Linked DNA regions of Homo sapiens: region 2 is linked to region 1. Evidence: fine-mapped expression QTL. A gene starts in region 1. The other region holds a variant in brackets. All regions are shown on one strand. Distances are between the middles of the regions.

What was found. PIP is the estimated chance that this variant, and not a neighbour inherited with it, causes the effect.
Region 2: its variant is the best candidate, but not a certain one, in a credible set for the expression of MAD2L2 in nucleus accumbens (GTEx, PIP 0.73).

Annotation. Positions count from the first base shown.
Region 1 is chr1:11,678,977-11,684,296 of GRCh38, forward strand. It overlaps MAD2L2 (mitotic arrest deficient 2 like 2), which reads right to left and starts at 2,172. Exons shown (of 9, transcript NM_006341.4): 1 at 2,063-2,172; 2 at 1,586-1,637; 3 at 1,377-1,495. The coding sequence starts at 1,625. RefSeq lists silencers at 1,494-1,553, 1,994-2,513 and an enhancer at 4,137-4,718.
Region 2 is chr1:11,705,523-11,710,887 of GRCh38, forward strand. It overlaps DRAXIN (dorsal inhibitory axon guidance protein), which reads left to right. Exons shown (of 7, transcript NM_198545.4): 2 at 727-1,187; 3 at 3,753-3,943. The coding sequence starts at 737. Among named protein-coding and RNA genes, the nearest start is that of DRAXIN, 16 kb to the left of the region's middle. The variant A/C (reference allele first, on the strand shown) is at 3,290.

The DNA.
Region 1 (5,320 bases):
AACACGGCGAAACCTTGTCTCTACTAAAAATACAAAAATTAGCCAGATGTGGTGGCACACGCCTGTAATCCCAGCTACTCGGGAGGCTGAGGCAGGAGAATCACTTGAACCCAGGAGGTGGAGGTTGCAGTGAGCCAAGATCACGCCACTGCACTCCAGCCAGGGCGACAGAGCGAGACTCAGTCTCAAAAAATAAAATAAAATAAAATATAAAATAAAAAATAAAGTGCTGACTACCTCAAGTAATGTCTTGAATACCATACTGGAAGTGAGAAAACAATGGTGGTGTGGGGACTTGAAGCGGGGACCACCTGGATGTCCTTTGAGCTTCTACCACTTATTCTCATGTTTCCTGAGTGCCTTCCAGAGACAGGCACTTCTAGGGACTGGAGCTACAGTGCGATGCACACTGCTTTGTCTGCCTTTTAGCCTTAACCCATTGAGTTTAGGATAAATGGTAGGGAGAAGATTTGGAGGTTTTTGGAAATACCCTCCTCACACCAAGGTTCACCAGCTTCACGAGCTCCTTCAAAGTGCCACCATGCCCCCAGGGTAACTTTTTTTTTTGGAGACATAGTCTTGCTCTGTCGCCCAGGCTGGAGTGCAGTGGCACGATCTGGGCTTACTTCAACCTCTGCATCCCGGGTTCAAGCGAGTCTCCTGCCTCAGCCTCCCTAGTAACTGGGATTACAGGCGCGTACCACCACACCAGGCTAATTTTTGTATTTTTAGTAGAGACAGGATCTCATCATGTTGGTCAGGCTGGTTTCTTGAACTCCTGACCTTGTGATTCGCCCGCCTCAGCCTCCCAAAGTGCTGGGATTACAGGTGTGAGCCACCATGCCCGGCCACCCCCGGGGTAACTCTTATCAGGCCTGGTCCCTAACTTCTGGCAAGGGGAACTCTCTTCTGAGGGGTGGGTAGGCATCACCACTTTGGAACTGGAAGGCATTGGAAGGCATGGGCAGGGCCCTGCGGAATGAGGTGGCTTGGCCCGAAGTGGAAGAGGTTTTTTTTTTTTTTTTTTTTTTTTTTTGAGACGGAGTTTCGCTCTTGTCACCCAGGCTGGAATGCAGTGGCACAATTTCGGCTCACTGCAACCTCCGCCTCCTGGGTTCAAGGGATTCTCCTGCCTCAGCCTCCTGAGTAGCTGGGATTACAGGCCTTGGCCACCACGCCCGGCTAATTTTTGTATTTTTAGTAGAGACGGGGTTTCACCATGTTTGTCAGGCTGGTCTCGAACTCCTGACCTCAGGTGATCCGCCCGCCTCGGCCTCCCAAAGTGCTAGGATTACAGGCGTGAGCCACGGCGCCCGACCAAAGAATTTTTAAAAGTCCACCCTGTACCCACTCTGTGGTTCTGGGACGTGCCTCACCTGGACCGGCACGTTGTACTTCTTGCGTTTCTGGAAGATGCCCACGGGGTAGACCTCGCGCACGTAGAGGATGAGATGCACAGCCACCTCCAGGAACTCGCAGAGCACATCGGCCACCACTGCAGGGGGGCACAAGCCGGTGGCGCGCTCGAGGAAGCCCGCCGGCCCAGACGCCCCCGCCCCCGGGCCCGCAGGTCCAGCCTCCCTACCTTGGCCAAAGTTGAGGTCTTGTCGTGTGAGCGTGGTCATCCTTCCCGCTACCTGAGTGTTGGGGCAAGGGCAGAGGGTAGTTCCAGAGACCCAGGAGCCCAGAACCCGCTCGCTTCCACCGTCTCTTCCCTCCCCACAGTCTGTGGGAACTGGGGAAGGACCTCCCGCTTCGCACAGGCTCAGGGCAGCTGGAAGAACCTCCACCCCCACGCTGGCGTCCGTGCTTGGGGGCATCAGCCTCTATCCACTGGCCGCCCGCGCCCCCTCGCCCCGCTGTCTCGCGGGGTGGAAAGACCACAGCTGTGCCCCCGAAAAGGGCAGGGCCGCGGACGCAGAGGGAAACAGCGGGATGCCCAGGGCCGGGAGCGCAAAGCGGGACATGCGGAAAGCGAAGCGGGGTTGGAATAAGACTCCGCCCCCTGCTACGCCGGATCCCTCCCGGCGGGAATCCCGCCCCCTCTCCCCTCCCCCAGTACCGGCTCTGCGCTCGGTTCCCGCCCGAGATCGGGCCCGGCCCCGCCGCGGGGAGCCACCGACCGGACCGATCGCGCCTCCCGCTCAACCCGGGGCCTCGGCGCCGCTCGGTGACGTTCACGGCGCTCCGGTGGGTCCTAGCGCCCGCCCCGCCCAGGCCACGCCCATTCCCGCACGGCCCAAACCGGGCCTCGCAGAGGGCGGTTCCGCATGCGGGGGCGGGTCTCCGAGGGGCGGGGGCCGGGCCTCGGCGTCCGGGAGGGGCTGAGACCCGCCGCGCCACCTCCCTTCAACTTCGGGTGGGCGCGAAGAAAACACAACGTTGATCTCCACGTTCCATTGGATCGCTACATATCTTCCCCCGAGGGCATTTCTCTCGCTTTAGCAGGCGCCGGAAGAGGGCTGGGGAGGGACGGGGGAGCGCGCAGCTGGGGACTAACGGCAGCCACATCTGAGCTAGCCCGAGTCACCATCCCTGCAGCTGCCCACGCAAAAGCGAATCCTCTGGCTCGGGGGCGGGAACAGGGGAGGACAGGATTGTACCGGTTGTCAAGGCCCGGGTGAAATTTTAAAAATAAAAAAAAGAGGGCGTGCACCGGCGTCGCCCCTGCTCCGCCCCCACCGGGTACCTAAATGCAGCCTGGCCTGACCGCCCAAGAGGATGAACCCTCCCCGCCCTACGCTTCATAACAATAGCTGACCTTTTTGGAGCTCCAGCCGAGTGCTGGGCACTGGGCTAAGTGTGTCCGTGGATTATCTCAGTCCTGGGAGTAACTCCATGAGGCAGTTACTGTGACTGTTCTCTTTATACAGATAAGTCAAGCGAGGTGCAGAAGGGTGAATAACCTGCCCGAGTCTCCCAGCTGGTGGGGTGGGCGATGGCCGAGGTGCCTCCTGCCACTACATTTTACTGCTCCCAAGTCCCCCAGGGGCGTGGACTCGGTCTGGAAGTCCTGTAAGGGCCCTCAGAGATGATATTACTAAAATAATAAAAAATAATGACTAACATCGAGCACTTCTTATGTGTCAAACACTGATTCCGTTAATTCTCTCATTAACCCTAGCAGCTAAGTCTCCATTTTATAGCCCCACTTTACAGATGGTTAAACAGGCCCAGAAACGTTCTCTAATTCGCCAAAATCACACAGTGGGAATACAAACCCAGCTCTGATGCCTCTTCTGACACCAGGGCTTCCACTTATTTACAGCCCCCTTATTTTACAAGTGAGAAAACTAAGATCTGAGAAGCAGCTACGGAGTTAGTGGGCAACAAGTCAGGACCAGAAGCCAAGAGGACTTTGTCTGTGACCTCCAGGGACGTAAGAGCTTGTTAGTCCCATCCGTCTGTTTGGACACAGATCTAGCCAGACTTGTTTATCGTTTACAGCTCATTATAGAAGACCTGGATCCCTCCCCCCGCCCCCTGATGCCTTCAAACCTGCATTTCCAGACTTCTAATGGGGAGAGAAAAAGTAACCTGTAAGTAACCCATTAAGCTAGGAATGTCAGCAAAACATTTCTTCAAATGCAGTCCTAGGAAATCTGCATCAGAATCCCCCAGGAGCCCATTAATCACAGCTGCCCTGCTGCCTAGAGCAACCTGATCGAGGTGGGGTGCACAGCAGGGCACTGGCCCTTTAACAAGCTCCCCAGGGGCCCGGATGCCCAGCAAAGTGTGGGAATCACCACAGAGGTTTGGACTGTTCCCAGAGAATATCTTCATTTTGTAAAAATGCGATGCATTTTGTAAAATTGTGATGTAAAATCATCCATCCAAAGGGATGGATGATTTTGTTTTAGGAACTGGTGCACTTGGCAGCACATTCTGGGCACAGCAACCATTCTCAAGATATGGGGATCCTGCACACATCATGCCATTTCCACACAGAGCTGGCCAAGCAACTCACTGGCTTATACACAGAGTTCCGTGGCTCCTTGAGACTGACTCATTGCAGAACTTGGGAAAAGCAAGGGTCTTTCCTTTCCCTCTCTGGAGGCTGCTTAAGCAGCTTTTGCATTGGTGACAGGCAGTGGCAGTCATAGGGGGCAACTCCTTGCAAAGGAGCCCTTCAGACTGGGGCCTGGGGTGGGGAAACTGAGAGCCAAGTGACTCCTGTGGGATGGCCTTCAGGACACAGTGTGAGGGGCATTGGGGCTCAAGTCAGGCCCTCCCTCCATGAGCTCCCAGCCCCAGCCCTCTGCCCTGAGAAAACACAATACGAGCCACCCGTAGAACTCCTGACACACAGAGCTAAGAACGTCAGAAAAACCTTGGAGGACATAAACTCAACTGTCATTTTTCCTTGGGGAAACTGAGGTCCCAACAGCTCTTGACACTGGAGTACCCACCCTGTCAACTAGAAACCTGTGGATAAAAATATCTGGGTTTGCAAATATCATATGTTCTCACTTGTAAGTGGGAGTTAACCTATGAGGATGCAAAGGCATAGGAATGATATATTGGACTTTGGGGACTCGGGGGGAAGGAAGGGTGGGAAGGTGAGGGAAGGGTGGGAAGGTGAGGGACAAAAGACTACATACTGGGTACAGTGTACACTGCTGAGGTGATGGATGCACCAAAATCTCAGCAGTCACCACTAAATAACTTACCCATGTAACCAAAAATTATTGCAATTAAAAAAAAACGTCAGCTGGGCACGGTGGGTGGCTCACGCCTGTAATCCCAGCACTTTGGGAGGCTGAGGCTGGTGGATCACCTGAGGTCAGGAGTTTGAGATCAACCTGACCAACATGGAGAAACCCCATCTCTACTAAAAATACAAAATTAGCCAGGTGTGGTGGCGCATGCCTGTAATCCCAGCTACTCAGGAGGCTGAGGCAGGACAGTCACTTGAACCCGGGAGGCGGAGGTTGTGGTGAGCCAAGATCGCACCATTGCACTCCAGCCTGGGCAACAAGAGCGAGAACTCCATCTCAAAAAAACAAAAAAAGTCTGGGTTTGGGGCCTTGGGTTCAGATCCAATCACAAACAGAAGGAAGGTGGGTTAGGAAGCAGATGGGGAGGGATTCAAACCCATCTGACCCCAAACCCCTAAAAGGCTTCAGTCTCATTAGTGAAATGAACAGGCCAGATAGATGTTCCCTAAACCTCTGATGGCCTCAGGTTCCATGGGGGCGGGGGCAGGGGCAGGGGGCCGAGTCAGCATGGGCCCATCCGGGGAGCTCTGCCAACACTCCATCCATGCGCTCTTCAGCATCTGGTTTTGCATATCTTAATCGCATCAGCATGATGGATGGTT
Region 2 (5,365 bases), 27 kb after region 1:
AGAGCTCATCATGAGAGGAGAAGAGAAAGGCAGAGCTGGGCCATCCTGGGACAGCCACACGGGGTTCAGGGCTCAGGGACAGGAATGACACAGTGCCACTTACTAGGTGTGACTTAACCTCTCTGAGCCTTCATTGCCACTTCAGAAAAATGGGGAAAATAACAGGAGCCATTTCAGAGAGCTCTTGAAAGGGCGAAGTGACATGAATTCACACAAAGCACTTAACGTGGGTCCTGCCTACAGCGTGCGCTCAAACGCTATTATTCCATTTGTATGGAATTAGGCTCCGAGTCAAGTCTCAGGGGCCAGAGGCATATTTCTGAGCTCTGAGGGACTCGGTTCCCTCTAGGGGACTTGGTAAGGGGCAGAGGTTTGTGCAGAGAAAGGAATTCTGGACTAATCTGGAACTTGAATGCTGCTGAAATGATTTAAGCCGGGGGTTCTCAGCCTCGGTACTGTTGTTTTTCTGGGCCGGATGATTCTTGGTTTCGGGGGCTGTCCTGTGCATTGTCGGGCGTTTAGCAGCATCCACGGGCTCCAACCTCTACCTGCCAGTAGCACTCCCCAGTTTTGACAACTAAAATATGTCTTCGGGCATTGCCAAATGTCACTGGGAGCAAAATGTCCCTCTATGGCTGTTGAGAAAAACTGGGCTTTAATCATTTGAGTGAGGGGCAGCAGAGAGAGGCCTGGGGCTGCGCATTCATGGTGTTGCTCTTCTTGCAGGGAGGAGCCAATGGCTGGGCCTGCCATCCACACCGCTCCCATGCTGTTCCTCGTCCTCCTGCTGCCCCTGGAGCTGAGCCTGGCAGGCGCCCTTGCACCTGGGACCCCTGCCCGGAACCTCCCTGAGAATCACATTGACCTCCCAGGCCCAGCGCTGTGGACGCCTCAGGCCAGCCACCACCGCCGGCGGGGCCCGGGCAAGAAGGAGTGGGGCCCAGGCCTGCCCAGCCAGGCCCAGGATGGGGCTGTGGTCACCGCCACCAGGCAGGCCTCCAGGCTGCCAGAGGCTGAGGGGCTGCTGCCTGAGCAGAGTCCTGCAGGCCTGCTGCAGGACAAGGACCTGCTCCTGGGACTGGCATTGCCCTACCCCGAGAAGGAGAACCGACCTCCAGGTTGGGAGAGGACCAGGAAACGCAGCAGGGAGCACAAGAGACGCAGGGACAGGTTGAGGCTGCACCAAGGTAGCTGGAGGGCTGCGAGGGGTGGGGATGGGGGTGATTCCTGCCATGGACTGAGGGGAGCAGGAGAGGATGCAGGCAAGGGTCAGGGGCATGAGGTCCAGAGGAGAGGAGGGGTCTCACTGAAGCCAGAGGGACCTGGTAAGGGGAGGAGGCTGGGAGAGGCCTGGGGTTGGGGCATGGGAAGAGGAGAGGGATGTGTTGCAATACAATCTGTCTTATCGCGGCCCGGTGCCGTGGCTCACGCTTGTAATCCCAGCACTTTGGGAGGCCGAGGCGGGCGGATCATGAGATCAGGAGATCGAGACCACGGTGAAACCCCGTCTCTACTAAAAATACAAAAAATTAGCCGGGCGCGATGGTGGGCGCCTGTAGTCCCAGCTACTTGGAAGGCTGAGGCAGGAGAATGGTGTGAACCCAGGAGGCGGAGCTTGCAGTGAGCTGAGATGGCGCCACTGCACTCCAGCCTGGGTGACAGAGCGAGACTCCGTCTCAAAAAATAATAATAATAATCTGTCTTATCAACAGATCATCCTCCTGAATCAGGAAGTTCTACCTTGTATCTGACCTAAATTTCTCCTACTTTAAGTTCTGAGTAGAAATGGAACAGTTCAGCGCCCTCCAAGCACATTTCTTACTCGACTCTGACGCATCCGGTAGGAGCTAAGAGCCTAGACTCTGAAGCCAGGTCTGCCTGAGATCAGGTCCTGCCTCCACCACTAGGGTGTGGCCCTGGGCAAGTTCTCTTTCTGTGCCTCGGTTTTCCCCTCTGTAAAGCAAGGAGACTGGTCCCATCCCATCTACCCTCAGTGTCGTTGCAGAGACTTGGTTAGTGGGGCGCTTGGAGCTCAGCTGGCAGGGCCATGAGCAGTCATTGTTCTGGTTAATCTCAGCCACCTGCTGAGGCCAACTCAGTGTCCTCCAGCCTGGACACAGGTGACTCCAGGAGAGGCATCGCTTGCCTACCGCTCCTGCCTCTGCCCTGTTTGTCTCAGTGCTCCCCTAGCCCTTCCCACCTTCCTTAACGTTTCCCCCACATCCGCTGGGAGCTAGCTAGCCCCCTGCTGGCCCAGGCTTCCCCCTCCCCGTGCCCATTCAGTCTCGGAGTAGACATGTCCCCTCAGCTCCAGTCAGGTGGCTCCTCCCAGCCTTGCCTGGCCCTAAGCCAGGGAACTTGGCTTCTAAGCTCTCCATGTGACCCGACTGCCTCTAGGGACATGCCGAGTGCCACAAATGCAGTGGTGACAGCAGGGTTCTTTGGCAGGAAGGCAATGGAGCTTCAACACCCCTTCTCGTGCAAACAGCTGAGGCTGGCTTCCCTGTGAGGCCTGAGAACCCCCCAAGAGGGCAGAGGTCAGTCAGGGTCCCCCGGCTTCGACTTTCAGCCTCCCACTCCTGGAGTTACCTGTGTCAGCTTTCAGGGGAGGATGCTGGGACCTTTGAGGACAGCTAGAGGGCACGCGTGGGGTGTGGACCCGTCCTGCTGGGCTCCGGCTCCGCCAGCTCCAGGGCTGCAGCCAGGCCTCCTGGGAGAGTTGATATGGTGAGGAGGAGGTGGGGAACGGAGAAGGTTTGCGGGCTAGGCCCTGCTCTGCTAATGACTGGCTGTGAAACCTCAGGCCAGGCTGGGCGTGGTGGCTCACACCTGTAATCCCAGCACTTTGGGAGGCTGGGCAGGCAGATCACTTGAGATCAGGAGTTGGAGACCAACCTGGGCAATATGGAGAAACCCCATCTCTATCAAAAATACAAAAATTAGCCAGGTGTGGTGGCGCATGCCTGTAATCCCAGTTACTCAGGAGGCTGAGGTGGGAGAATCACTTGAACCCTGGAGGCAGAGGTTGCAGTGAGCCAAGATTGAGCCCCTGCACTCCAGCCCTGCTGGAGCTGAATCCAGACCCTGCTACTCATGAGCTGTGCATCCTTGCGTGAGTCACCTAACCTCTCTGTGCTTCAGTTTCCTTCCCTGTAGATGAGACTGAAGGAGCACCCACTTCCCAGAGCTCTTGCAGTAGTTAGACGAAATAACACTTGTGACACAGCTCCTCTGGGACCCAGCACACAGCAGGTGCTCCATTAATGGGGTGATGACTAATTGTCACCAC[A/C]CAGGATGCACTCACTTGTGTGTGATAAGCAGTGATTCCCACCTCCCAGCTTCCTCAAAGGCCACTGCAATGATTCTCAGCCTCATGACATTTCTCCCTACTCAAACTTCACCTCCTCCAGGAAGCCTTCCATGGTTAATCCTACTAGTTCCTATTTGTTATACTTACATATCTGGCTGCGCCCAGCCAATCTGGACTTGGACTTGCTGGAATGTTGCTTTACAGGGAGAATCCTTGGACTGTCTCCCCAGCGACACTGCAAGTTCTTCCAAGACATTTTCCTCCGAGTTCCCATCCCCCAACCTCCCAAGAAGGGTAGGAAGCAGGAATGGGGGCTGAACCAAGGGCTTGTCACACAGTGCCTGCTGCCTCCTAGTTTGCAGCATAAAACGTGGGTTCTACTGTAGACTGCCACGAGGTGGCAAGCAGATATAGCCCCCGTGCTCCCCACCCTGTGTCTCAGGCCGAGCCTTGGTCCGAGGTCCCAGCTCCCTGATGAAGAAGGCAGAGCTCTCCGAAGCCCAGGTGCTGGATGCAGCCATGGAGGAATCCTCCACCAGCCTGGCGCCCACCATGTTCTTTCTCACCACCTTTGAGGCAGCACCTGCCACAGAAGAGTCCCTGATCCTGCCCGTCACCTCCCTGCGGCCCCAGGTAAGGGGTCCCCAAACAGCCTCGGATCTGGAAGGGTCCTTGAGCCCATGTCATGGAAAGCCCTCTTAATACATGTAGGGAGACTGAGGCACGGGGGCAGGAGGCCACAGAGCTTACTTAGATTGAAACCAGATCTCCTGCTGCCCATCCAGTCTAGCTCCAGCCCTGGTGGGTGCCCCATCCTGACAAGGGTCTGCCACTGTCCAGGGCAAAGTGCTCCTGGGGGCCCACTCTGGGGACAGCCAAGGAGGCAAGCGGTAGCTCAGCATGCTGGTGTCTGCATGGAGAGCAGCAAGGCCTGGGGAGGAGCTTTCTGTGTACAGAGGAGCATGAAGCATAATAATGGTGATTTTTAAAACTGTGTCGTCAAGACCCAGAATTAATAAGCATTAGCTAACACTTGGACCCATCTGCATCAGATCTTTAAAAAAGATATGTGGGCTGGGCGCGGTGGCTCATGCCTGTAATCCCAGCACTTAGGGAGGCCAAGGTGGGCAGATCACGAGGTCAGGAGTTCGAGACCAGCCTGGCCAACATAGTGAAACCCCATCTCTACTAAAAATACAAAAATTAGCTGAGTGTGGTGGCGCACGCCTGTAGTCCCAGCTACTCGGGAGGCTGAGGCAGGAGAATCGCTTGAACTTGGGAGGCGGAGGCTGTAGCGTGTCAAGATCGCCCCACTGCACACCAGCCCGGGTGACAGTGTGAGACTTTGTCTCAAAAAAAAAAAAAAAAAGAAATGTGGGGCGGGCACGTTGGCTCAAGCCTGTAATTCTAACACCTTAGAAGGCCAAGGCACGAGGGTCACTTGAGCCCAGGAGTTTGAGATTATCCTGGGCAACATAGTGAGACCCTGTGTCTACAAAACTTTTTTAAAAAATTAGACAGGCATGAGGGCATGTGCCTGTAGTACCAGCTACTTGGGAGGCTGAGGCAGGAGGATCGCTTGAACCCAGGAGGTCAGGGCTGCAGTGAGCCATGATTGCACCACTGCACTCCAGCCTGGGCGACAGAGTGAGACCCTGTCTCAAGGGAAAAAAAAAATGTGGAGAGAAAGTAAGCGGCAAATGTGGCAAAAACACTACCCACTGGTGATTCTGGAAGAGGGGTATATAGGAGCTGACCGCATCGTTCTTGCACCTCTTCTGTGGCTTTTAAAGGTTTTCAGGCCGGGCGCGGTGGCTCATGCCTGTAATCCCAGCACTTTGGGAGGCCAAGGCGGGCAGATCACAAGGTCAGGAAATCGAGACCATCCTGGCTAACATGGTGAAACCCCATCTCTACTAAAAATACAAAAAAAAAAAAAAAATAGCCGGGCATAGTGGCAGGCACATGTAGTTCCAGCTACTTGGGCGGCTGAAGCAGAGAATTGCTTGAACCCGGGAGGCAGAGCTTGCAGTGAGCCAAGATCACGCCACTGCA